Linked DNA regions of Homo sapiens. The protein of the gene in region 1 purifies or fractionates together with the protein of each later gene. This does not show direct contact. Each region holds a gene or a part of one and is shown on either strand. Other genes may lie near its edges. The genes, in order: MINDY4, ANAPC1, CTR9, IFT57, PPP6C, PJA2 and IFT172.

Region 1 (3,235 bases):
CCAGAGGAGTCTATTGGGTTTTGGGGTTGAGCCACTTTGATGGAATTTATCCATATCAGAGCGTTCATCTTCACTGCTCAAATAAGAGACACTGGTGCCGTATTTGGAGACAAACTGGCTTGGCTTGGTGAAGTCAGACTTCTCCTCGGCAGTGAGTGCCCATTGCTGATACTATTTGGGGGTGGAGTCTGATGATGTCCTATACTGGCTAATATAGGTCCAACCAGCAGGAAAATGGCCACTGCTCTGGCTTATACAACTGAGCAGGTTCTGGAGGTAAGCAGGCTGGGAAGGCATTGTGCTGACCCCAGCTCCTGGGTACTGAGTTCATCTATTACATCTGCTGGGTTAAAAGCACCTTAGCAATCTGCAGCAACACGATGAGCATTTGAGATTTTCAATTTTCTTGTTCTGTTCATCATCTTTGCAGTTTGGAGTGTGTCATTAAAAAGCTTTTATTGTTCTATTAAGATTTGTGGGCAAGCATTGAAATCTTGGACACTAAGGAACACATCCTGAATCCAGACTCCCAGAGGGTGGCAGAAGGGAGGCAGGAAGGAGAGCAACATGCCTGCTCTCAGCCTGGTCCCCAGGCCCCTTCACCCCGCCCCTCTCTATCTTTTCAAGCCTTTACCCTCCCCACTCAGAAAGACTGAAGTACCTCGTATGAGCTCCCAAGTTACAAATTCCTTGAATCCTGGCAAGCTGCTTCAGTGCAGGGGTGAGTCACACTCATCTACCACTAGACAACATCTGTGTCACCACAGTGGCTGAGTCTTACTATCAGGCTGTTGAGTTTGAGCTTGGTTTTGAGGCTTTCTACAGACATAACCAACCCGCTCCATCCAGCCAACAGGGGCAAATGCAGGGAGAGTACTGGAAACACCAGAGGGAAGCAGTTTGCAATTACAATAGAAAATCAAAGCAGAGACATTTTAAAAATTGAAAGGGCTGAGCCATGACGCATGTTGTGCTAGTGTAGGGGACGAATCGAATCGTTCCCCGATTGGAATGGTTCTGAAAGCTTGTGAGTCGATTACAAGGACAAGTAAGAAGGGCTCTGCATATGCAACCAACAACTGCGGACAGGCACAGAAAGGGGAGGGATGAAATGGAAACACCTCTGAGGAGCAGAAGAGACACAATCAAAGTTCCAGACTCATTCATCAGTGCTAATGCAGGAGGCGGCTGACAGCCAGCCAGTTTATAGCCGGGTCTCTCATCCTCGGTACCTAAGGCATTTTGGCTGGGTAATTCTTTGTTGTGGAGACCGTGGTGTGCATTATGAAATGTTTAGCATCCTCTCCCAGGGCTGTGACAACTAAAAATGTCCTCAGACATTGGCAAATAACCCCAGGGGCACACAATTGTCCCGTTGAGACCACTCGCTCCGTAAAAACACCATGGTCCCTGGTGCTCAAGTCAACTTAAAATCACAGAGAAAGGCACTTCATGGTGGAAAATAAGGCCCTGTCCCCCCAGAGGCATCACTGCAACAGAGGGGTGGTTACCTGCCTTAACTGCTTTTCAACGTTGATGGACCCAGTGTTTTTCATGGGGAAAAAGGTGCCTGATAGAGCCTGTGTCAGCCAGGACAAGACAGCAGGCCTGAGTTCAAAGCTCCTGACTGGTAGAAAAGCATCCAGGGACGCCTCTTGTATGCTTTAAATCTCCAGACAAATAGGCCTGTGTGAAAGTTTCCGTTCCCGTGCTCCAGCCATTCGGAATGAGGAGCAGCTCTAGGATGAGCCACGTGGGTATCCCTCACCCCTGGGCCTTAACCCCTGCTGGGCCCTGCCCAGTCCGCCATCCTGCAGGATCAGATCCAGATTCCTCTTTGCAGAAGTGTTCTCTGACTGCCACCCGCGGGTCCCCGTCAGCACCCAGGCCAGGCTCCAAGGCAAAGCTGGTTTAACCAGTGCCTGCAGCCTGGGCTCCAGGTGGAGGTGGCAGGTGGGGGTGCTGCTGCATGAACACGACCCCCACCAGGCCAGCTGTTCCTCCTGGACGCCTGCTTAGGGAGTGGCCCCGCCCTCCCAGGCACTCAGCAGGGAAACCATGGTCCTCGCTGGCTCACGCTTCAAAGCCCTGCCTTGCACTCTCCTCTCTGCCTGCTCCTGAGCCCTGGCCCAACTTGCCACCACCTGATTCCTCCTCCTCCCCAACGCATGCCCAGAGGCCATTGTGGCTCACAGGAAAGGCAGTGCTTCCACAGCTCTTCTCTCAACCTCACAGCAGCTCAGGAGAGGGATCCTTAGACCCCAGGGACAGATGGGGAAACTAAGGCTGGGAGCAGAACCAGACCTTCTGGAGCTCACACAGCTTGATGACTGCAGAGCCAGCACAGGGCAGGTGTGTGTGGGGGGCAGGGCATCAGAAGAGGGCTGGCATGGACAGTGGGGAGTGACAGCGCCCAGAGAATGCTCCTCCGATGGGTGGGAGGCACTGTGGACAGGGAGCCTGGGCAAAATGGTCAGCATGGAAGCTGAACGGGAGGTTCCGCAGGGAGTGGGGGTAGCTGAGGGAGGCGGGGGCTCTGCCTCTGCCCCTCGAAGGCATCATACCCAGCTGGAATTACATTTTCAATTTCTTGTCTGCACCTCCGAACAGAAACATCTGTGCCCCAGCCCCAGGCTCCGGTTATGAGTTCTTTCCTCTTTTCTCTGGACTGTTGACAACCGTTTCATTTTTCTCACTCTAGCCAGGCTGGAAGCATGAGAGAGGTCACTGTGTGTGTCTCGTTTGGAAATGACCATAATAAATTAGCCTGTTTTTTTGCTGAGATGGTTACAGTATAACAGTGGGAGGGGGCAGGGGACAGATCCCACATTCCTGACACAAGCAAAGGTAACAGGAGACTCTCTCAGGCCGAGGTTTGCGTCACAGCAAAGCGCAGAGACACATGGGGTCTGGGATGGTTTGAATTAGGATGCTCTTCTCTGAAGGCGAAACCAGCAGTCTGGGCTTGTGCAATGTCACCGAGGCAACAAAGCCAGGTGGTGGGAAGTCACTGCCCACTAAGTGACCTTCCAATGGGCTGGGACAGCAAAAGCGTAAGCCACAGTCCTTGGAGCTTGTGACTCAAAGTGTGGCTGGGACACGGACCTCCATTCTGGAGGCCCCCATCTCCCTGTCTGTAAAAGAAGAGGTGATAACAGGGGGTGCCCAAAGGCCTTTCTGTAGAGCCAAGCAAGCTGCCAGACAGCCAGCTGTGTGGCTTGGGGGTTCTTGCAGG
Region 2 (3,500 bases), on another chromosome or scaffold:
ATTATTTGTGTAATATCTGTCTCCCCCAACAACACTCTAAACTCTACAATGACAGGGACTCAGTCTAGCTTGTCAGAGTAGCCTCAATACCGGCTATAGAACCTGCTTTATATATGCTGAGCGTTCAATAAGTTCTTGATGAAAAAGTAATAGAAGATATTTCTTGTGCCTCTCAGTTCTGTCATCAGTTGGTTCCGTTCCATTTGTTTCTCTCACAGTCGGGGGTGATATGTGTGTGCACGCCTACCTCAGCGGGCAGCCCTTGGAGGAATCACAGCTGAGCATGCTGGCCTGCTTCCTCGTCTACCACTCTGTGCCAGCTCCACAGCACCTGCCACCTATAGGACTAGAAGGTAATTGCATATCTAAGTCTTATCTTCAGTAACTCTGTTACCTACCCCTTTATGTTCTAGTTTCTCAGTAGTTACTGCCCCTAGTTTGACTTTCCTCTTCATTAATGTTGCAGTGTCATTGTTAGGGACTGTTTTGGAGCAAAAAAGAAAAAATTATCAACTTTATATATGAATAACTTTCATTTTTATTCAGAAAAGGATGGATTCTTCTTCACAGAGCCCCAAACACTGATCTATACTAATAAACTAAATATTCCATATTATTCTTTACTAATTGATTTTTTTATTAAAGCTATTTTTCTTTATTTTCTAGGTTTTCAGTTGGGTTTTTTAGAATCACATATAATCTTAATTTCTAATATTACAAAGCTTTACAACTAATAAATACCTAATTTTGTGTTTGAATTTTTTTATAATAGTTTTAAAAATTAATAGTATTATCACCTGATTGTATTTTTCAGAATATAGAAACAGATAAAAAAAATTTATCCATTAAGCTGAATACTAAGATATGATGAATTCTAAGCACCCAATTTTTTTGAGATTCTCAAAAAAAATATTTTTTGATAAGGGCAAAGATTGTTCCATTTAATCATTTAAACTTGAAGTTTAATTACATTACTAGTTTTTTGCTGTTTTGCAAGCCTCTGATAAAAGTTTACTATCTAGAGACTTCTGGTTATGGCCATGATGGAATTGCTTGTATTGGACTCACTTGCCCTCAAAAACAAATATAAAAGCTAAAAAAAAAAAATAAGAAAAGGGAAGTACAACAGGGAGAGCTTTATATTCACCCTAGCTTCTCCCCCAAAGGCATTTGCCAGTTCATAGTACAAGAAGTAGAGTGCCAGCAAAAAGCAGCAATGCTGCAGGGCTGAGGAGCCAGAGGTTGGGTTTGTGATTGCCCAAGAGCCTAGAACTTGAGGAACACAGTCTCAGGCAGGAGAGAACAATAGAAATCATAACTCAGACTCTGGATATACCTTTCCCTTGAGTTACTTAATGATATTTTAGCCTTCATATACATGGGATAAGACTTCAAGAGATCTAGCAGAAGCCACAAGGCCAAAAATGTAAGCAAAAATGTCAGCAGCAGCATAGGACTGAGGAGACAAAGGGTGGAATTCAACGCTTGTTAAAGTGAAGTGGCTCTGATCAGCATCCCAGCTCCTCAGGTGAATTAATACATGGCCAAGCCCTAAGCCTGCTCTAGCCTAATTTTAGATCTGGTCTGCTTCAGTTTCACTCCAAGCAGACTTGACCTACAATTAGCCTAGAGCAGAACTAAGGTGATCTGTGTGCTTTCTCCCCACCTGACAGAAGAAAATGTAACCTTCATAGGAGAAAGAAAACATACCCAGAGCCCCCGCAATTTTTAGTCTACAGGATTCAGTGTTGAATCAAAAATTACGAAACATAATAATAATAAAAAAACAGATAATAGAAACAGACTTATGTGTGATTCAGATATTGGAGTTATCATACTGGAACTTAAAATAACTATGTCTAATGTTTCCAGGAAAATAGAAGGAATGATAGGGAATTTCACCAGAAACCTGGGGTCAATAAAAAAGAGTTAAATGGAAATTCTAGAACTGAAAAATATAGTAACTGAAATGAAGATCTCAGTACTGGATTATTTGAAGTGAACTGGAAGACACTTATCTGCTGGAAGACAAGTAGAAAGTAAACAAACTGAAGCACAGAGGGAAGAATGGTTAGGAAATACAGAGAAGAGTACAAGAGACATGTGGAAACCGTGAAAAAAAAATAAACATGCATGGGGTTGGAATAAGAGAATAAGAGGAGAGAAAAAATGAGTTAGAAGCAATATTTGAAGAGACAGAAGCTAAGAATTTTGAAAAATTGTGTTAAATATTAACCCACAGTGAACCCTAAGCAGGATAAATACAAAGAAAACCATACCTAGTCACATTAATAGTCAAACTACTAAAAGGAAAAGGAAGACATTTTAAAAGTATAGACTTCTTTTCAGGCCAGGCTGGACAAACAGGGTTGTTCAATGGTCAACTGTATTAGAACCAGTAAAATACCACTTAGATAGTATTTGAAGGTAGACAGGCACTTTTGCACATTATATTTAAAGAATTTATATATATATATATATATATATATATAAAATTAAACAATATTAGTAGTTTCACATGTAGTTATAGGTCACTTTCTGAAGTCTAGAATGGGTAAATTCTATCAAATCATATACAGGTTTGAGTATCCTTAATCTGAAATCTGAAGTGTTTGAAATCGAAAACGTTTTGAGCACCAACATGATGCTCAGAGGAAATGTTCATTACAGCATTTTGGATTTGGGATTTTTGGATTAAGAATGCTCAGCCGAGGCTGGGCGCAGTGGCTCACGCCTGTAATCCCAGCACTTTGGGAGGCCGAGGCGGGCGGATCACGAGGTCAGGAGATCGAGACCATCCTGGCTAACACGTTGAAACCCCATCTCTACTAAAAATACAAAAAAAATTAGCTGGGCGTGGTGGTGGGCACCTGTAGTCCCAGCTACTCGGGGGGCTGAGGCAGGAGAATGGGTGAACCCAGGAGGTGGAGTTTGCAGTGAGCCGAGAGAGCGCCACTGCACTCCAGCCCCGGTGGCAAAGTGAGACTTCGTCTCCAAAAAAAAAAAAAAAAAAAGAAAGCCAGTAGGTGTAATGCAGATATTCCAAAATCTAAAAAAATCCAGAATCCAAAACACCTCTCTTCAGAAGCATTTTGGAAAAGGGATACTCAATTTACATTACAGTGTATTAAGGAATTTCATAATTTTAAATATTGTCTTTGCATAGTCATTTTCAAAGGGAAAAATGCCTGTTTTAAACATGATTGTGTTTCTGAAGCTTCCTTGAAAGGAGAGGTATGGCTGAATTTATTTAGAGATGTGACCTTCCCACCCCATTTCCATTTTAGGGAGCACAAGCTTTGCTGAACTGCTCTTCAAATTTAAGCAGCTAAAAATGCCAGTGCGAGCTTTGCTGAGATTGGCTCCTTTGCTTCTTGGAAATCCACAGCCAATGGTGATGTGACCGTGTCTGGCGGTGAACCTACCCTGAAACGTGACTTCTGCACAACAAACGTGACCAAACATCAAAGCTAAAGCAATGTTTATAAAGTTTTATGGTA
Region 3 (3,500 bases), on another chromosome or scaffold:
CCCCAAGAGAAGTGTGAAAGACTGACCTGTGGAAGGTCAGGAACCTCTGTTCCCTACTGTGGCACTTTCCCAGCCCATGTAAATATCACTGCCTCACCCAAAGTCACCTTCCATAAATAGTAACATTACCTGGCTTCTGTAGCAGCAAGGGCCAAATCAAATCTCATTTTATCTCCCACTTTACTCAAATAACTGAAGTATCTAAATGAAACGAGAAAATACTTCACTTTTAAAAAAAGAGATTCTAATGAAATAAAGCTCTTAAAAAATTTAATCTGTGCTACAAAGTCTGAGAAAAGGTTTGCATATTGACTGATTTACACAAATTTATGCCACTCATTACATTTAATAGACACGTTCATCAAGATGGTCTAAGTTATATTTAATATTATCAGTAAATTCACAAATAACCACAAAGCAATTCAAGCAACAAGTATTTACTAAACATGAAATTTACTAAATATGTCAGGATGGAGGTTACGGGGCTCAGGCCATGAAAGCACTTATAATTTACCAGGCAAGGCAAGAATTGTTAAACAAGAATAAAAATATTAAGTTGGACAAAACCTGAAGAGATGACAGGTTTTAATTTCACCACACACTGACTCACCATATAAATACTATATGGCTAAATAAATTTTGAGCTGAACTGAATAAAACTATTAAGCATTATTTAAGAAGTAAAACCTTAATCCTAGTTCAATGAAAATCAACATCCCATTAAAAGACACATTGGTGTAAAATGGAAGACCAACGTAAGTGTCCAAAAAATTTCACATGTGTAAAATGCTGGGTCACATTACTGTCAGATTAATAAAAAATCTATGGCAAGTTTGCAAAGCTAGCCAGCCAGTTCTAGAGGTCAAGCTACAAGATCCAAATCTGGCAGGATCCTGACTATAGTTTGGCACCACCTGGTGGCAGCTGCTATCTGCTTTGGCTTAACTATTGCTGGAATGATTCTAATAGACCACCTTTAGAAGGAAGTGATTTTCAGCAGCTTGAGACAAATAGCTTTAAACAAAGCATTTCAGACAAAATCGGGAGAGTTCAAGATGGTATGGTCATAGACCAAATAAAGCATTTCATAGGTTGTTTCTACAAAATCTTTACCTATGTGCAAGCTCCAGTTCTTTCACAGCATTAAGTACTTCCTTCAGATTACTTTTTTCATCTTTCAGGACAGAGGTAGCTAATCTTTGCAGGACCAAGGCCACATTAAACATAAGAACTGTATCACTGGGTGCCACATGTCTAGCCTGTGAATAAAAAATAAATATTTCATATGTTCAAATGACATGAAAAGGATCTTAGACAGCAGAGTATTATTAAGTAGTAGGTATGTGAACACGCATCACGAAGAATTAAAAAATACAATGTAGCACAGAAATGGATGGGAATAACATCTCTCCTTTTTACCTTCAGCAAAGTCTGTTTGCATTCCTGTAACTTGCCACACTTGAAGAGGGCCCGGGCCAAATAGAGTACAACTTCAGTGTTTTGGTGCTTATAGAACTTTCGGAGGCAGTTTTCATACTACAGTAAAAGAAAAAAGTTAATTAAAACACAACAAAGAATAAATGACATTTTCATTTTGTAGCAAAATGGCATTGCAATTTTAAAGCTCTGTAAAAAGGTGTTTTACCCTTTGAATGGTTAATTTCAGAGAATAATTTGGGGAATGATTTTTGACATTCATCAGGATACATTTTCACAACATAAAAAATCTGACCATTAGAAAAACTAGATGCTTGAAATGGTTTCTTTCCATTTGAAATTTGGACCAACATTGAAAGAAAGGGTAAACAGACTGGAAAGCCTTTTTCATACTTTTAGCAATACTATCTAGAATCAGCTTATTGACCACTGATGAGAAGTCATACACCGTTGTCCTTTGCGTTTTACCATCTACACCTTTCTTAACAATGGGCAGAACCTACTGGCAATGAGCATGAGGAGTCTTACAGTTCTGGTTGTTAACTTCTTGGTAAAACCAATACAATACTAGTGTTAATTGTGACATGAACATAGCACTTTTTGACCATGGAATACCTCTTGTCATAGGTAAGACCTTTTTCATGAAAAATGGTTAAGACCATTTTTTCCTGAATATCCCTAGTAGTTAATTTGCATTTATAAAAGACAACATTATCATTCAGCAGATCAGGAAGGCCAGCCTCACAAAACACAACCTCTGAAGCTCCATATGCAATCTAGGTTCTGTGAGTTTCTGTGATTATTGACTTTCCAGTACTCTGAATATTGGTAATAACCCACCCATTTTAGAAAAAGGTAAACCACTTCTCAGGAGCCTGGACTGCTCTTTTTGTCTACTTTTTGTAAGCTTTTCCTTTCTGACCATAATATATCCCACAGAGCCGAAGATCCTTTTTACTTTTTAATTTTATGGATGCTGAGTATGACTTTTATTTCGAGCTCAAGCACTCAACAAATGTAAGCATAAAAAAATTCTACAGTCATTAAATCTTATCGCTGTTTTGTTTTCTTTTTTCTTTTTTTTCCCGAGACAGAGTCTGGCTTTGTCGCCCAGGCTAGAGTGCAGTGGCAGGATCTTGGCTTACTGCAACCTCTGCCTCCCAGGTTCAAGCAATTCTCCTGTTTCAGCTTCCTGAGTAAGCTGGGATTACAGGCACGTGCTACCATGCCCAGCTAATTTTTGTATTTTTAGTAGAGACAGGGTTTCACCATGTTGGCCAGGCTGGTCTCGAACTCCTGACCTCGTGATCCATCCGCCTCAGCCGCCTCAGCCTCCCAAAGTGCTGGGATTACAGGAGTAAGCCACCATGCCTGGCCTGTTTTCTTTTAAATAAGTCATTTAACCTTTCTAAAACTCACAGTTCAGTTTCAGAAACTGAATACACAAATAAATATTCAATCCTACTACTTACTGGGTATTACTAATATGCTAGGCATGCTAGTGCCAAGTAGTTTTCATACGGGATCCTCACAAAATTCTATGAAGTTAAGGTACAATTATCTCCATTTTATAGATAGGAAAACTGGCTCAGAAAGGATGTCCTTTGCCTGAGGCATGTAATTAGTGGTGGAACCAGGACTCACATCTCTGTCTGGATACCAAAGCCTGGCCTTAGCATTATATAATTATAAATCTCTAAATAGACACAGTATCACAAGAGATAGCATGCAGCTCCATGACAGGGCCAGAATGGCTAAGAAAACATCTGCTTAACAATGAACAAGATATAAAAATATCTTGAAAGAGAAGCTATTACCATCTGAACGGCGCTGATGTACTGCTTTTGCTCCACATAGATGTGTGCTAAGTTCAGCCACACATCACTAATATCTGCTGTTGCTTCTCTTACTTGGGCAAATACATCACGAGCTTCACGAAAATATCCTTTGTGGGCCAAAACAGCTCCTAAAGATATAAAAAGGTTCACACTTAACAATTTTCTAATTGGAGTCAGAAAAACAACTAAAAATTCTATTTTAAAACAACTACATTGATCACATTT
Region 4 (3,500 bases), on another chromosome or scaffold:
TAAGACCTCAAAAGCACAGATAGACAAAGCAAAAATGGACAAATGGGATCATGTCAAGCTAAAAAGCTTCTGCACAGAAAAGGAAGCAATCAACAAAATGAAGAGACAACCCACAGAATGGGAGAAAATATTTGCAAACTACCCATCTGAAAGGGGATTAACAATCAGAATATATAAGAAGTTCAAACAACTCAGTAGGAAAAAAACCCAAATGATCTAATTAAAAAATAGGCAAAAGATCAAAAAGAGACATTTCTCAAAACAAGTCATACAAATGGCCAGCAATTATACGAAAAAATGATCACTAATCATTACTAATCACCAGAGAAATGCGAACCAAAACCACAAGATACCATTTTACCTCAGTTAAAATGGTTTTATCAAAAAGACAGGCAATAACAAATGCTGGCAAGGATATGGAGAAAGGGGAACACTTGTATAGTGTTGGTGGGAAAGTAAATTAATACAGTCACTATGGAGAACACTTTGGAGGTTCCTCAAAAAACTAAAAATCTATCATATAATCTAGCAATGCTGCTGCGGAGCATATACCCAAAAGGAAGGAAATCAGTATGTTAAAGAGAAATCTGCATTCGCATGTTTACTGCAGCACTATCCACAATAGCCGAGATAGGGAATCAACCTAAGTGTTGATCAAGGGATGAATGGATAAAGAAAACAAGGTATATATACACAATGGGATATTATTTAGCCATAAAAAGAATGAAATTTTGTCATTTGTAGCAACATGGATGGAATTGGAGGTCATTATGTTAAATGAAATATGCCAGGAACAGTAAGACAAATATCACATGTTCTCACTCATATGTGGGAGGTAAAAATAAGTAGATTTCATGGAGGTAGAGAGTAGAATGATGGTTACCAGAGATTGAGAATGGTAGCGGGGAGGAGGGATAAAAAGTGAATGGTTATTGGGTATGAAAATATAGTTATTTAAAACTGCATTAGTTATATAGAAAAAATAAGACCTAGTGTTCGGTAGCACAATAGGGCAACTATAATTAACGGTAATGTATTATATATTTCAAAATACCTAAAAATGTGGAACGGGAATGTTCTTAACACAAAGAAATGATAAATGCTTGAGGTGATTGATAGCCCAATTACCCTGATCTGATCATTACGCATTGTATGCCTTGTATCAAAATATCACATACACCCCATAAATATGCACTATGTGTTCATAATAACTAAAGATAAAAAAATAAAAAATATATAAAAATAAGTTTGATTTATGGAGTACCATTTGGGTGAACTGAAGCTAGATGCTGTTGATTAAATCCCAAAGCCAGTGCTCTCCAACCCTCATTTCCACCCTCATTTCCAACCCCTCTTTCTTTCCCTCCTTACAAGATTGAAGTTCAGAATCACCAAACAAGACAAGGGCGCACACCCGTCCATACTACCACTTTCTTCAGGCCTGGATGTAGGATTGTTCAAGTTGTGAATAACATACTCAAAATGTTTTACTGAAGGAAGGGCATTTTTCATAAAGGCAGATGGGTTTGCAGTGGCCATTTGAACTAGACCTAGAATCTGAGGCAGCAGGGTACATAAAGATCAAACACTGCATTAAGATATGCCACTGCATAAGCTATTTGTTTTTATGTTGGGCCCTTTAGTAAGTTGCATTTACCTTTACTAGCTTATTATTTGGTTCCCTTAAGCAACGATTTGCTAACTCCCACTCCCAATGTTCTAAAATGATTTAACATAGGAGCTCAAAAATTTTCACTCACTCGTAGGCCATAATTAATATACTAGGGGAAATGGCCCAGTTGCTAAGTGAATAAAGGGCAAAAAGAGAACATTAGGTTTGGCAGAGCAGCATTAACTTATTCAAACTATACAGTTTCTTTCTACATCCATGTTTGCATATCTATTTCATAACCTCATTCCTCACTCAACATTTCTTAATGCCTAATAACTTGATACATTAACTGAGCAAGCCCTATATATAAAGTATAAATCATTTTAAAACTATACTGTGCCTTGGTTATAATACTTTGAGAAAATTTTTCTTCCCAATTGTTTTTCCATTTCATAAATGGTACTTTATGTGGGTCACTTGTACAAGAGAAATAAACTGCTTTTCATTTAATCAAAATTTTATATCATCATGACAAAGTCCCTCTCTAACACATTAACTAATATAAAGCATTGCTTTTGGGAAATTCCATTTTCCAGTTACTGCTGCAGAAGAAACAATTAGAAGCTCATAAGACACAAGTTATCTAGAAGTCTCATTTATAATTAATTAAATTAATAAGCCATTTGTTAAACTCCTACAACATTCAAGGTAAGAATTCAGGCACTGTGCTTGGTGTGGAAAGCTAAAAGGATTTAAATGCTGCCTGCAGAGTTTGCAGACTACTAGGAAAAGTCTGAGGCCAGTTAATGGGAGTAATAATTGGTCCTAGGTAAAAGGAGAAACTGATGAGATGGGAACTGATCCTAACTGCCAAAGGAAGAACTGAAAATAACAGTCTACACTATCCCATAAAGTAACCTTGGGCTCAAACAGTGGGGCACACCATCGAAGTCAGTTCAAGAATCAAACATACAGTGTTAAAAGCCTACTTAGAATCCTGTTCCAGTAATCTTTGGTCAAGCATCAAAGAAAGGCTATGTTCTGTAAAAATATACATGAGATGGCAACTTCATGGATATACTAGTGTCCAGATTCATTTGAAGAGCTTATATCATATACCTACTGAGAGGGTGTTAAAAGTCCAATTAACTCTCAAGATTAAATACTCCCAAGACTCAAGGAAAAGGGAACTAAGTTGTCTTAAGAGTCACAACAGCATGGTGTAAATGTTAAGAGGATGGGTCTGGAATCACATCTTTGCTCAAATCCCACCTCCATGACTTACTAGCTGTTGGTCAAGTTACATAACCTCTCTAAATCTCGGAGTACCCATCTGTAAAATGAGAATAACAGCACCTTCCTCATTGGAAGGGTTGCTGTGAGCATTAAATGAGACAATGTATTTAAAAGGCTTGCACAGTGTATAATACATATTAACCCCTGGTATATTTTAGCAGTTATTATCATTACTATTACATGCCAAACACGGTACTAGATGCTTTTACATATGGGTTAAATGCCCAATAATAACACCATGAAACAGGGAGTCTTATTACCATCTTTTAAAGTGAGGAAACTGAGGCACAGAATAGTTACATGACTTTTTCAATGTCACATCTTGTGATTGGTAGGTCAGGCAGTGTTACTCTAGAGCACAAGCTCTAAAACACCTTAGCACATGTCTATCAACCCTTTGCACATAGGCTATAATTATTTTTCTCCAGTTCATCACTTGTATTTTAACTTAACGGTGTTCCCCACTCTGCTTTCTTGTAATATAAAGTTTTAATTTTTATGCATTCAGATTTGTATTTTATGTTTTTGATTTTCTTGTCATGCTTAATTATGCCTACTTCAAACTATAACACTTGTCACTCCTCATGTTTGG
Region 5 (3,500 bases), on another chromosome or scaffold:
TAACCTCAAAACACAAGATATATGTTAGCAAGAACTGCACATTTGACTGAAGGTATATATAATACAAAAGTTCAATTTTATGCTTCCAATTTTAGTAGTTCGAGGTTGGTCTCTAACTTTCTGACCTTTGATCATGGCTGTACTTCACATCTTAAAAAGTCTACAACTGGGGGAAACACTACACTGGGGGAAAACATGACTTGGTTTATTCCAGTTTTCAGGAATGTGTTAAGACACTGCTTATATTAATATCCTTTATGTTAGCAAAATACAAATGTTTACTTTGAGAGAGAAGTTACATAGAAACTTCTACACTACACTGGGGGAAAACATGACTTGGTTTATTCCAGTTTTCAGGAATGTCTTAAGACACTGCTTATATTAATATCCTTTATGTTAGCAAAATACAAATGTTTGAGAGAGAAGTTACATGGAAATTTTAGGAAATCAATTCCTAAAGTCTACTCTAAAGAACTGTAATTTTAACAATCAAAGATGACATAATGGGACCTCCATCTAGGAGGTGATGACATGCAAGTGTCAGATTTTTTTATAATCTAAAAAATCCAGAAAACACCTTGAAAAACCAAAAGAAAATCAGCCTGTAAGTAAGTAGCCAAAACAAGACTTTACTCATGGAGCAGCCCCTAATCAGAGTCAATTTACACACATTTCTGCTCATTTACACAGTCATATTTAAAGCAGGGAAATTGCACAGGTGACAGTAAGTCCTGTTGGCATCCTTTAAAGACTACATTGTTTGCAATGTATTATTAAGTCTTATGGCCCCAACTACACTGTATGCATATAGCACTCTATGAGTAATCTGTTCAGCTTTCATTTCCCAGTGAAAAAATTCTACAAATATACATGAGACTAAACACTGACAACAGAATCTAAATATGAGGTATGCCCCTCCTGTTACTGCTTTGAAATTCTTTTTTTTTTTTTTAGACAGAGTCTTGCTCTGTTGCCCAGGCTGGAGTGCAGTGGTGCGGTCTCGGCTCACTGCAACCTTCACCTCCCGGGTTCAAGAGATTCTCCTGCCTCAGCCTCCTGAGTAGCTGGGATTACAGGCACGCACCACCATGCCCAGCTAATTTTTTTGTATTTTCAGTAGAGACGGGGTTTCACCATGTTGGTCAGGCTGGTCTCAAACTCCTGACCTCACGATCCACCCGCCTCAGCCACCCAAAGTGCTGGGACTACAGGTGTGAGCCACCACGCCCGGCACTGCTTTGAAATTCTTACAAACACCCAGCAGATGAAAAATTGAGCTAAATATTTTCTAGCTCATTCATCAGTGATTTGCTGTGACATCATGGACCAACAATTTTATTTTTCTGTACCTTTGCTATTCTCATTCCCACTAAAGAAATGATAAATTTTCAACAATATATGACAGGAGAACAGAAATGAACTGAATGAAAAAAGTGCCTAACACCAAAACATCTCCTGTTAATCATAGTTATTATGAGCAGTATGTGTTTGTACTTTATATCTTCTACCTACCCCCAACCCCACCATTCCACAGAAAACTAATGCTGCATTATTCACTTCACAAATGTAATTATCAACAAATTCCATCACTAATTTGACCACTGCTTTTATTCACCAAAAATGTAAACCAGGAATCATTTGTGTCACAGAGACTGAGGCAACCTAGCTTACCACCAGTTGTGTTTGTTGATGTTGTTGTTGTTTTAATTTTGCAGCACATGTGAAAACACACATGGATCATGGACAGTACAAAACTTAAAAATCTGCTCATGAAATTTTACCTGTCCATGGATATCTCCACACACTGTTACTGGTGTTGATACTGGCTGAACATTTGACTCTTCTAAGAGGAGGTCACAAACGTAGTCACATAGCCGCTATAAAAAGAGAAAATAAAAGGTAAACATTTACTACAACATTAAAACTAAAGATAAAATACCAAAAAAGAAAAATACCAGGTCTAATACTTACAAAACCCAAGTATACTTTTTGATAGGAAAGTACCCTGTGATAATTCGGGGGTTGGATTTCTGTCAGCTGTCACACAGAATTCTTAATGCAATGCAAACTACCTACAGAGACACTAAGGTTCTAGGAGACAGACAGCTTTACAAGAACTGTAAAATGATGTTTTTCACCAAACACACACACACATATACACACACACACACACACATATATATATATATATATATATATATATATATATATATGAAGAAATAATTTTAACAGTAAAAGGTTTTTGGGTTTTTTTGTTTTTTTTTTTTTTAAACGGAGTCTCACTCTGTCTCCCAGGCTGAAATGCAGTGACACGATCTCGGCTCACTTCTACCTCCATCTCCCAGATTCAAGCAATTTTCCTGCCTCAGCCTCCCAAGTAGCTGGGGTTACAGGCATGTGCCACCACACCCGGCTAATTTTTGTATTTTTAGTAGACACAGGGTTTTACCATGTTGGCCAGGCTGGTCTTGAACTCCTGACCTCAGGTGATCCACCCACCTCAGCCTCCCAAAGTGCTGGGATTACAGGCGTCAGCCACCGTGCCCAGCCAGTAAAAGATTTTTATCTGGTAATTTAAAAAATAAATTGCAAACCACACACTTACCATTTGACCCAGCAACTGTAGTCTTGGCAATAAAAACATGTTCAAAATCTGTATATAAATACTCGCAGAAGCCTAATGCATCATAGCCCAAAACTAAAAACAAATCAGATATCCTTCAATGAGTGAATGGTTAAACACATTTTGGTACATCCACACCATGTAATACTACTCAGCAATAAAAAGAAACGAATACTGCCACACAACAACCTGGATTCATCTCAAGGCATTTATGTTGAGTGAAAAAAATGAAACAACAGAAAACTGTCCCAAAAGGTTATATACTGTATAATTCCATTTATATAACCTTCTTTTTTTCCCTTTTTTTTTGAGACAGAGTCTTGGTCTGTTGCCCAGGCTGGAGTCCAGTAGCACAATTTCAGTTCACTGCAAACTGCCTCCCAGTTCAAGTGATTCCCTTGCCTCAGTCTCACAAGTACCTGGGATTACAGGCACACACCATCATGCCCAGCTAATTTTTGTATTCTTAGTAGTTTCACCATGTTGGTCAGGCTGGTCTCAAACTCCCAACCTCAGGTGATCTGCCCGCTTCGGCCTCCCAAAGTGGTGGGATTACAGGCATTGAGCCACTGCACTCGGCCGTGTTTACACATTCTTGAAATGACAAAATTAAAGAAATGGAGAACGGATTAGTTGTTGTCAGGGGTCCAGCAGTTGCAGGAAGGAAGTGGGTGTGGCTATAAAAGGGCAACATGAGGAATTCTTGTGATGATGGACCTGTTCTGTATTTTGACTATAGAGTTGGATACATGAGCCCTTACCCAATAAAACTGCAAAGAACTGAATACACACAAACACACACACACACACACACACACACACACAAACACACACACACACACACAAACACAAGTAAAACTGAAGAAATCTGAACATC
Region 6 (3,500 bases), on another chromosome or scaffold:
TCCAGCCTGGGCAACAGAGAGAAACTCTGTCTCGAAATAAATAAATAAAAAATAAAAAAATAAAAATGCCACAATGAACTTTAGTTATATTCTTGATGAGTTCTACTTTGGCTATTATAAGCATGACAAAAAAAAACTTTTCAAGTATATCAACTTTTTAAGCTTTACAAAAAAACTCAAAGTTCACAGGCCCAAATTAAGCAGCAGCTCTTATACTTTCCATCCAAAACCTGAGAAGACTAGCATCACCATCTCTCCAATCTACAAATACAAGAACTAGGGAGGATGACAATGAAACATCAGGGAGATGAACAAGGGCAAAATGAAACTAAATAGGAGTGTACAGCTATTAAATTCCAACCTTTAGCTGGCACCATATTAAAAAGGCACCCTGGCAACTATAATCCTTTGCAGGGAATTAGGGTAGAGGAACAGGACACAGCAGCATAGAAACAGAGTTTCTGTTCAGAAATAGAATAATCTGTACAGAAAACTGTACAGACACTTTGAGATCGTAAAACATATCTTAAGGCTATGGATAAAAATATAAGTACAGTCCTAGGCAGAACCATTATCCTTTAGAATTTATTCTATGATTCTTTAAAACAAAACGAAACAAGAAACTTTTAAGCATTTCAATGTGTCTTAAACAATGATCCTAAAGTAGTTCCATCATTTTGGCATACCCTAACCACAGGCTCTGTAGTCAATACATTACTAGCAATTTAAAAGGACAGTTTCTATTAACTGTAAATGTTTTTTCCCATCTATATATTGTTTGTAAAAAAAAAAAAAAAAAACTATCATTGTTCAGAATATTGACATCACTTAAGAAAAAAATTAAAAATAAGAATAAGAATTACAAATAACTAAGAAAATACCTTATAACTATGAAAAGTCCAGGGTCCTTCAAGGCAAAGAATACACTTCCACCACTGACCACCCCCAAAACAAAGAAAATCAATTTAAAATCAAGGAGCCAGGAAGACTACCTTTCTCTAGGGGTTGGCAAACAATGTAACAATTTCATCAACTTCATCATAAGACATTATAACTGACTATAAAAAGCAAGCAGAAGAGAAGTATTTATTTTGCCCAAAATGACAAAGGTATAGCCAAATTAAATGATTCTCCTTAAAGAAGAAAAAGTGTAACTGGGGGAAAAAAAATACAAGCACCTTACACTTTCAAAAAAATAAATTATCAAAGACTGTAAGTTTTGTCTTTTTTTAAAAATAGTAACCTAGAGGTATAATATTAGAGACTTGCAATCTATTTCAAAATCTTAGGGCTAAATGTGTTTTGGAATTTTGATATATATTTCCCAGATTTAGAACTACTACTTAACAAACCCCAACATGGTCCAGGCCACACACAGTAATCAAACATAACTATATTTCTGCAGTAAAATATACAAATATTTGAAAAAATACCCTCATTTCAATTCAGATCCAGATCTGCTTATCCAGGAAGTTAACATCAGGTCAGGCTTTGTGGCCAATTTCTGTTTTTAGAAGTGTGGATACTGAATAAAACACTGTGGGCTTGAACTGAAAAAAACTTTACCTTTAGCTTAAAAACAGTATATCATACAAAAATTACTTACTAACCCTTAAAGTTTACAGACTTTGACAGAGCAGCAGAAATTATATTTTAAATATTTTCTATAATAAATTACACAATCTGTATTATAGTAGCTTAATTCATATGTCCAAAGAAAATCAAATGAATTGTTTTATGACATGAATTAAAATGCATTCATATTCAAAATGGTAAATTTCTTCCTTTATAGTACTTTCTAACTAAAAAAAAACCACACAATTATTTCCACTAGCTAATAAAATCTTGCAATTGCACTGTAATTGAGCACTGTCAGGGATGCAACTAGCTTACAAGGACTCATGAAAATCTGGACACTGGGGTAATGGAAATTCAGCAACTGAACAAAGAAATTCTCCATTTTTTTCTTTTTCTGTTGTCTTATGGTTTGGAAAAAAAAGATACGGGTTTGTAAGAGCAATCAGAATGCTTATTATAAGTTTTATGTTCTGTTGAAAATAGCAAAGAATAGTGGTGAACAGTCTCTGGAATACCCAGTTAGGTACTCAAAGTCCAGCTCTACCATTAAGTTGCTCTGTGACCTTAGGAAGTTATATAATGCTCTGTGCCTCAGTTTCCTTATTTACAAATGAGGGAAATAATGGAATCTACCACACAGAGTTGTTAATGAGAATTGAATGCTAAGAAAAAATAAGTAAAAAATAAACTTAGTGATAGGAAGAGCCACAGGAAGAACAGATAAAGAGGGAAACAAGTGATATTAGTCACTACTGGCAATGTTAATGAAGTATTACCAATCAATAATTTGTGATATTAATCACTTTTTAAACCCAGACTGGCTTAATGTAGGTTTTTAAAAAATACAACAAATGTTTATTTTACATTTTATTAATTGAAATACCATGAACTAGCATCTCTATCCCTTTATAATAATAATCATTATCTGAACTTACTTCTGTAAACTACTAAAAACCTCAAAAACATTTTTTTGTGAAAAATTCTAATGAGTAGTTTGCATGTATGGTTAGCATTCAGTAAATAAAAATATTTGGTAAGTCAAAATGTCTAATTCCCTGATCATATCAAATAGCCCAGCCATCAAACATGGTTCTAGAAAGAAACCACTTCATTTACTACACAATCGGAAAAAGTACTGGATGTGACCTTACCTATCTTCATCTTTGTCATAGAGTTGGTAATAATCTCCACAGCCATTCCAAAAGGTGTTATCCACCTCTTGCCTTCCTGCTGTGGCTCCACTTTCTGATGTCATTTGGTTATTTTCTGTTTCCCTTTGTGTAATAACTCTTGAGTATGGTGGATCCAAGAACATACAGTCATGCTCTCCATCATATTCTTCACATTTTATTAAGAGGTCATCTGAGCCACTTTCCTCAACTTCCAAAGCCTCTCTCCATCTTTGAACACTTCTTTGTTTCGCCTCATGCCTATTAAAACCTGTTTCTTGGTCCACCTGGCTTGAACTTATCAGTTTTCTAACTTTTGGCCTCACTACCTGTTCAGGAGAACTTCCATGGTTCTTTTCCCTATCATTGGTATTTTGTTCACTACAAATATGCCCTGGACCACAGGCTGCATCTTCAGGTGAATGTTCTGTCTGTCTTTCCTGGCTAGTATTATTTTGTTGTTTCGTACTAACCATTTCATCTTGAGAAGACCTCTGAATTTCCTGGCTATTCTGATGGACAAACTCAGTATCACCAGCAGAACTTTTCACTAATGGTACAGAATCTAACTCTTCAAACTCATCTCTTACTTCACAGTTAAATGAGGGAACTGGTGGTGAAAGACCAGTGTATGCCTCTGCCTCTCTGTTTTCCAACTCAAATACTGTATTGCCTAATGATTCCTGGTATCTACTACCTTCCACGACTTCTGCAGAAAGTTGAAGATGGTCATTATCTTCTCCATGTTTGCCA
Region 7 (3,500 bases), on another chromosome or scaffold:
ACAGCCTAATAAGGACCTGCCGTTTGCCTCTCTTTCTGGCATTGTTGATGCTCTTGAGCACATCAGCCAGGACATTCATGCGCACTATTGCGGCGGTGCAGAAAGATAGCCAAAAGAGCAAAGTGTTCTCAAGCTACTGTTATCAGTGCCAATCATGGAGTCCGATGCTGAGGGTGGTCTTGCTCATTTTTTGGAGAGACTCTGTTTCTGCTAATGTAGCTGGGGCTCAGGAAGAGATGGAGAGCACCAGGAGCCCTCCTAGCCCTGTCAGTGTAGGGCTGCGAGGCTCACTCCTCCCTTCCCCTTCGCAGGCCCAAACTAATTCCTCAGGAGCAGCTGGCCTCAGGGAAGGCATAGGCTTTTCCAGACGTCTCTTGATCCACGCTGACAGTGACATGGTCTTCACAGGGCTGCCTGCCCGTCTTCCTTTTTATCTCTCCACGCTTTTCTGTCACTTCATATTTGTTATCCTTAAATCTGTCACTTTTTCTCCCCTCAACTCTGTCCTTTCTCTGTTTTGTCTTGTTCCTTTTATGAAGGGAAGCATGAAGCAAGAAAACTTTATCTGCACTTTCTGTTTCAGCTCCTTTGAATTTGCGTTTGAACTCTCTCGGCTGGCCCTCAAGCACAAAACCCCCGAGGTTCATCTCAAATATGCTATGTTCCTGGAGGATGAGGTATGGGTGTGATTTGGACCCCGACCGCAGAGCCCTCTTATTCCATCCCCTAGTGCACTGCTGCTGGGTGTGCAGACCCCCAGTCTCATGCCTGCCTGTGATGCCAGTCTCCTTCTCATCATGCACGGCTGCCTTTCTCTCCCTGTAGGGTAAATTCGAAGAGGCTGAAGCTGAATTCATCAGAGCTGGTAAACCCAAGGAGGCAGTCCTCATGTGAGTTACCCCATACATTCCTTAATACTGTTTCCCCAGTCACCGTCCCAGGATCTTTCATGATTATCTTGACCTTCATTCAAACCTAGAACAAATCAGTGTTACACCCCTCAGTGACATGGCTGTTTGTCTCCCACTATTGGGGCCTCAGTCCTATACTCAGTCTCTCCTCTGTCCCCACCTGGAGGCAGGTTTGTCCATAACCAGGATTGGGAGGCAGCTCAGCGTGTGGCTGAGGCTCACGACCCTGACAGTGTCGCCGAGGTGCTTGTGGGACAGGCCCGGGGGGCCTTGGAGGAGAAGGACTTTCAGAAAGCAGAAGGGCTGCTGCTCCGGGCCCAGAGACCAGGCCTGGCCCTCAATTATTATAAGGTGGGGCACTGGATGCAGGGCCATGAGGGGAGGGGGAGAGTTTGTAAGAGCCCACAGAGAGCCACACTGACCCCTGGTATGAAGAAAGATCAGGGAGGTTAGTATTGGGGAGTGGGGAAGACAGGAAAGAGGAGGAGAAGAGAGGTCCAAGGACCCAGGAGTCTGTGGGCCAGAGTACCTGTGTGGCAGTGGGAAGCTGTCAGGCCTGCCTCTGCCCTCTTGATACCTGGAAATCTGAGCAGGAGGCTGGATTATGGAGTGACGCTCTGCGCATCTGCAAGGACTATGTGCCCAGCCAGCTGGAGGCTCTGCAGGAAGAATATGAGCGGGAAGCTACTAAGAAGGGGGCCAGGTATGAGGCCAGAGGTCCAGGCAGCATTGGCAGGGCTGGGAGGGTCATGAGGCATACACAGGATAGAGCATGCTGCCCCCCTACCATGCCAAGTCCCAGCGCTCTCATCTCCACAGGGGTGTGGAGGGATTTGTGGAACAAGCTCGACACTGGGAGCAGGCTGGAGAGTACAGCCGTGCCGTGGACTGCTACCTCAAAGTGCGAGACTCTGGAAACAGCGGCCTGGCGGAGAAGTGCTGGATGAAGGTGAGGACAGCAGGCCCTTTCTGGCCCTCCTTCTCCCTAGGCCTCTATTCACACTTGGCTCTGCTTCTCACATCTTCAGCTCTTTCCTCTTGTGTCTTTTTCTTTTCAATCAGGTAGCAGGAATCTATGGAGTGCCTGCTGGATGATAGAGCCAGAACCTCTGAAGGCTATAAAAGTGGATATAAGACAGAGCCCTGACAGCCAAAAGTTAGGGGAATTAGACCAATAAATGGCTCAATTACTATCATATCTGAGTAAAGACTAAAGTGCATGATTTAAAGTAGAGTTCAGAGAACAGTGAGATCTCTGTGGGCTAGAGGGGTCAGGAAGGCTCTGTGAAGAAGGAGGGAAGACTTGGACAGGAGCTGGAAGGGCAACTCCAGGCACAGGAACTGGCCAGACAGGGAACATGAAAAAAGCATGGGCTCCACCTCCCCCACCCAACATTTCCTGAAAAGAAGCTTCCAGCAAATTAAGCCAGGCCAGTATGTGTCACAAATAATAAGACATACTGTATTGGAGAAACCAACAGGATATATACAGTCATATGCCATATAACAACGTTTTGGTCAACAGTAGACCACATGGGTGGGCATGGTGGCTCACGCCTATAATTCTAGCACTTTGGGAAGCTGAGGTGGGTGGATCCCTTGAGGTGATCCCACGCCTGGCCTTAAATAGGTTTCAATACACAAATGCTTACCATTGTGTTATGGTTGCCTATAGGTAGTCAGTACAGAAATGTGCTGTACAGGTTTGTGGCCTAGGAGCAATAAGCTCTACGCAACCTCTACCTAGGTGTATAGTAGACTATACCATCTAGGTTTGTGCTATGATGCTTACATAATGATGAAATCCCCTAAGGACACATTTCTCAGAACATACTGATCATTAGACAATGCATGACTGTAGGTATATGTGTGTACATGTATATAAAGAGATTTATTAAAAGGAATTGGCTCATGCAGTTATGGAGATAGACAAGGCCCAAGATCTGCAGGTGAGCTGGCAAACTGAAAACCCAGGAGAACTGATGGTGTAGTTCTTGTTTGAAGGCCAGCAAGCTTGAGACCCAAGAAGAGCTGATGTTTCAGTTCAAATCTGAAGGCAGGAAAAAGCCAGTGTCCCAGTTTAAAGGCAGTCAAACAGGAAGAATTCTCTCTAACTTGGGAAGGAGCCAGCCTTTATGTTCTGTTCATGCCTTGAAATGATTGGATGAGGTCTATCCACAGTAGAGAGGGCAATTTGCTTTACTCAGTCTACCAATTTAAATGTTAACCTCATCCAAAAACACTTATAGAAACACCCAGAATAATGTTTGACCAAATACCCGGATACCCTGTAGCCCAAATTGATACATAAAGTTAACAATAACATATATATATATATATATACACACACACATACATATATATAATTATATTTTAATATATTTAAAATTGGGATGCAGGTATAGTTTAAATGACGCACCTTAGATACAGTGAAATGTGAGTGGGGGTCATGAGGGGGGTGAGATTGGCCCTCTAAATGACATATTCGTATGGTGATGCCCCTGCAAAATTTCCCTTAGGTTTTGAGGTTTTTTTGTTTGTTTGTTTATTTTGTTTGTTTGTTTTTTGAGACGGAGTCTTGCTCTGTCG

The links.
Region 2: the proteins of MINDY4 (region 1) and ANAPC1 purify together in Homo sapiens (affinity purification with mass spectrometry, with the first as the bait; one large-scale study listed by BioGRID). This does not show direct contact.
Region 3: the proteins of MINDY4 (region 1) and CTR9 purify together in Homo sapiens (affinity purification with mass spectrometry, with the first as the bait; one large-scale study listed by BioGRID). This does not show direct contact.
Region 4: the proteins of MINDY4 (region 1) and IFT57 purify together in Homo sapiens (affinity purification with mass spectrometry, with the first as the bait; one large-scale study listed by BioGRID). This does not show direct contact.
Region 5: the proteins of MINDY4 (region 1) and PPP6C purify together in Homo sapiens (affinity purification with mass spectrometry, with the first as the bait; one large-scale study listed by BioGRID). This does not show direct contact.
Region 6: the proteins of MINDY4 (region 1) and PJA2 purify together in Homo sapiens (affinity purification with mass spectrometry, with the first as the bait; one large-scale study listed by BioGRID). This does not show direct contact.
Region 7: the proteins of MINDY4 (region 1) and IFT172 purify together in Homo sapiens (affinity purification with mass spectrometry, with the first as the bait; one large-scale study listed by BioGRID). This does not show direct contact.

Annotation. Positions count from the first base shown.
Region 1 is NC_000007.14:30,886,417-30,889,651, reverse strand, and holds part of MINDY4 (probable ubiquitin carboxyl-terminal hydrolase MINDY-4), read right to left. Parts: intron 553-3,235; exon of another isoform or gene 1-552. UniProt on the Homo sapiens protein: Probable hydrolase that can remove 'Lys-48'-linked conjugated ubiquitin from proteins.
Region 2 is NC_000002.12:111,769,194-111,772,693, reverse strand, and holds part of ANAPC1 (anaphase-promoting complex subunit 1), read left to right. Parts: intron 1-218; coding exon 219-353; intron 354-1,559; exon of another isoform or gene 1,560-1,633; intron 1,634-3,287; coding exon 3,288-3,403; 3' UTR 3,404-3,500. UniProt on the Homo sapiens protein: Component of the anaphase promoting complex/cyclosome (APC/C), a cell cycle-regulated E3 ubiquitin ligase that controls progression through mitosis and the G1 phase of the cell cycle.
Region 3 is NC_000011.10:10,768,246-10,771,745, reverse strand, and holds part of CTR9 (RNA polymerase-associated protein CTR9 homolog), read right to left. Parts: intron 3,404-3,500; coding exon 3,255-3,403; intron 1,537-3,254; coding exon 1,420-1,536; intron 1,260-1,419; coding exon 1,114-1,259; intron 202-1,113; coding exon 130-201; intron 1-129. UniProt on the Homo sapiens protein: Component of the PAF1 complex (PAF1C) which has multiple functions during transcription by RNA polymerase II and is implicated in regulation of development and maintenance of embryonic stem cell pluripotency.
Region 4 is NC_000003.12:108,194,925-108,198,424, forward strand, and holds part of IFT57 (intraflagellar transport protein 57 homolog), read right to left. Parts: intron 1-3,500. UniProt on the Homo sapiens protein: Required for the formation of cilia. Plays an indirect role in sonic hedgehog signaling, cilia being required for all activity of the hedgehog pathway.
Region 5 is NC_000009.12:125,169,304-125,172,803, forward strand, and holds part of PPP6C (serine/threonine-protein phosphatase 6 catalytic subunit), read right to left. Parts: intron 2,714-3,500; exon of another isoform or gene 2,645-2,713; coding exon of another isoform or gene 2,606-2,644; intron 1,878-2,605; coding exon 1,782-1,877; intron 1-1,781.
Region 6 is NC_000005.10:109,375,475-109,378,974, forward strand, and holds part of PJA2 (E3 ubiquitin-protein ligase Praja-2), read right to left. Parts: coding exon 2,730-3,500; intron 1-2,729.
Region 7 is NC_000002.12:27,451,744-27,455,243, reverse strand, and holds part of IFT172 (intraflagellar transport protein 172 homolog), read left to right. Parts: intron 1-583; coding exon 584-677; intron 678-825; coding exon 826-890; intron 891-1,081; coding exon 1,082-1,262; intron 1,263-1,504; coding exon 1,505-1,614; intron 1,615-1,730; coding exon 1,731-1,860; intron 1,861-1,973; coding exon of another isoform or gene 1,974-2,006; exon of another isoform or gene 2,007-2,107; intron 2,108-3,500. UniProt on the Homo sapiens protein: Required for the maintenance and formation of cilia. Plays an indirect role in hedgehog (Hh) signaling, cilia being required for all activity of the hedgehog pathway.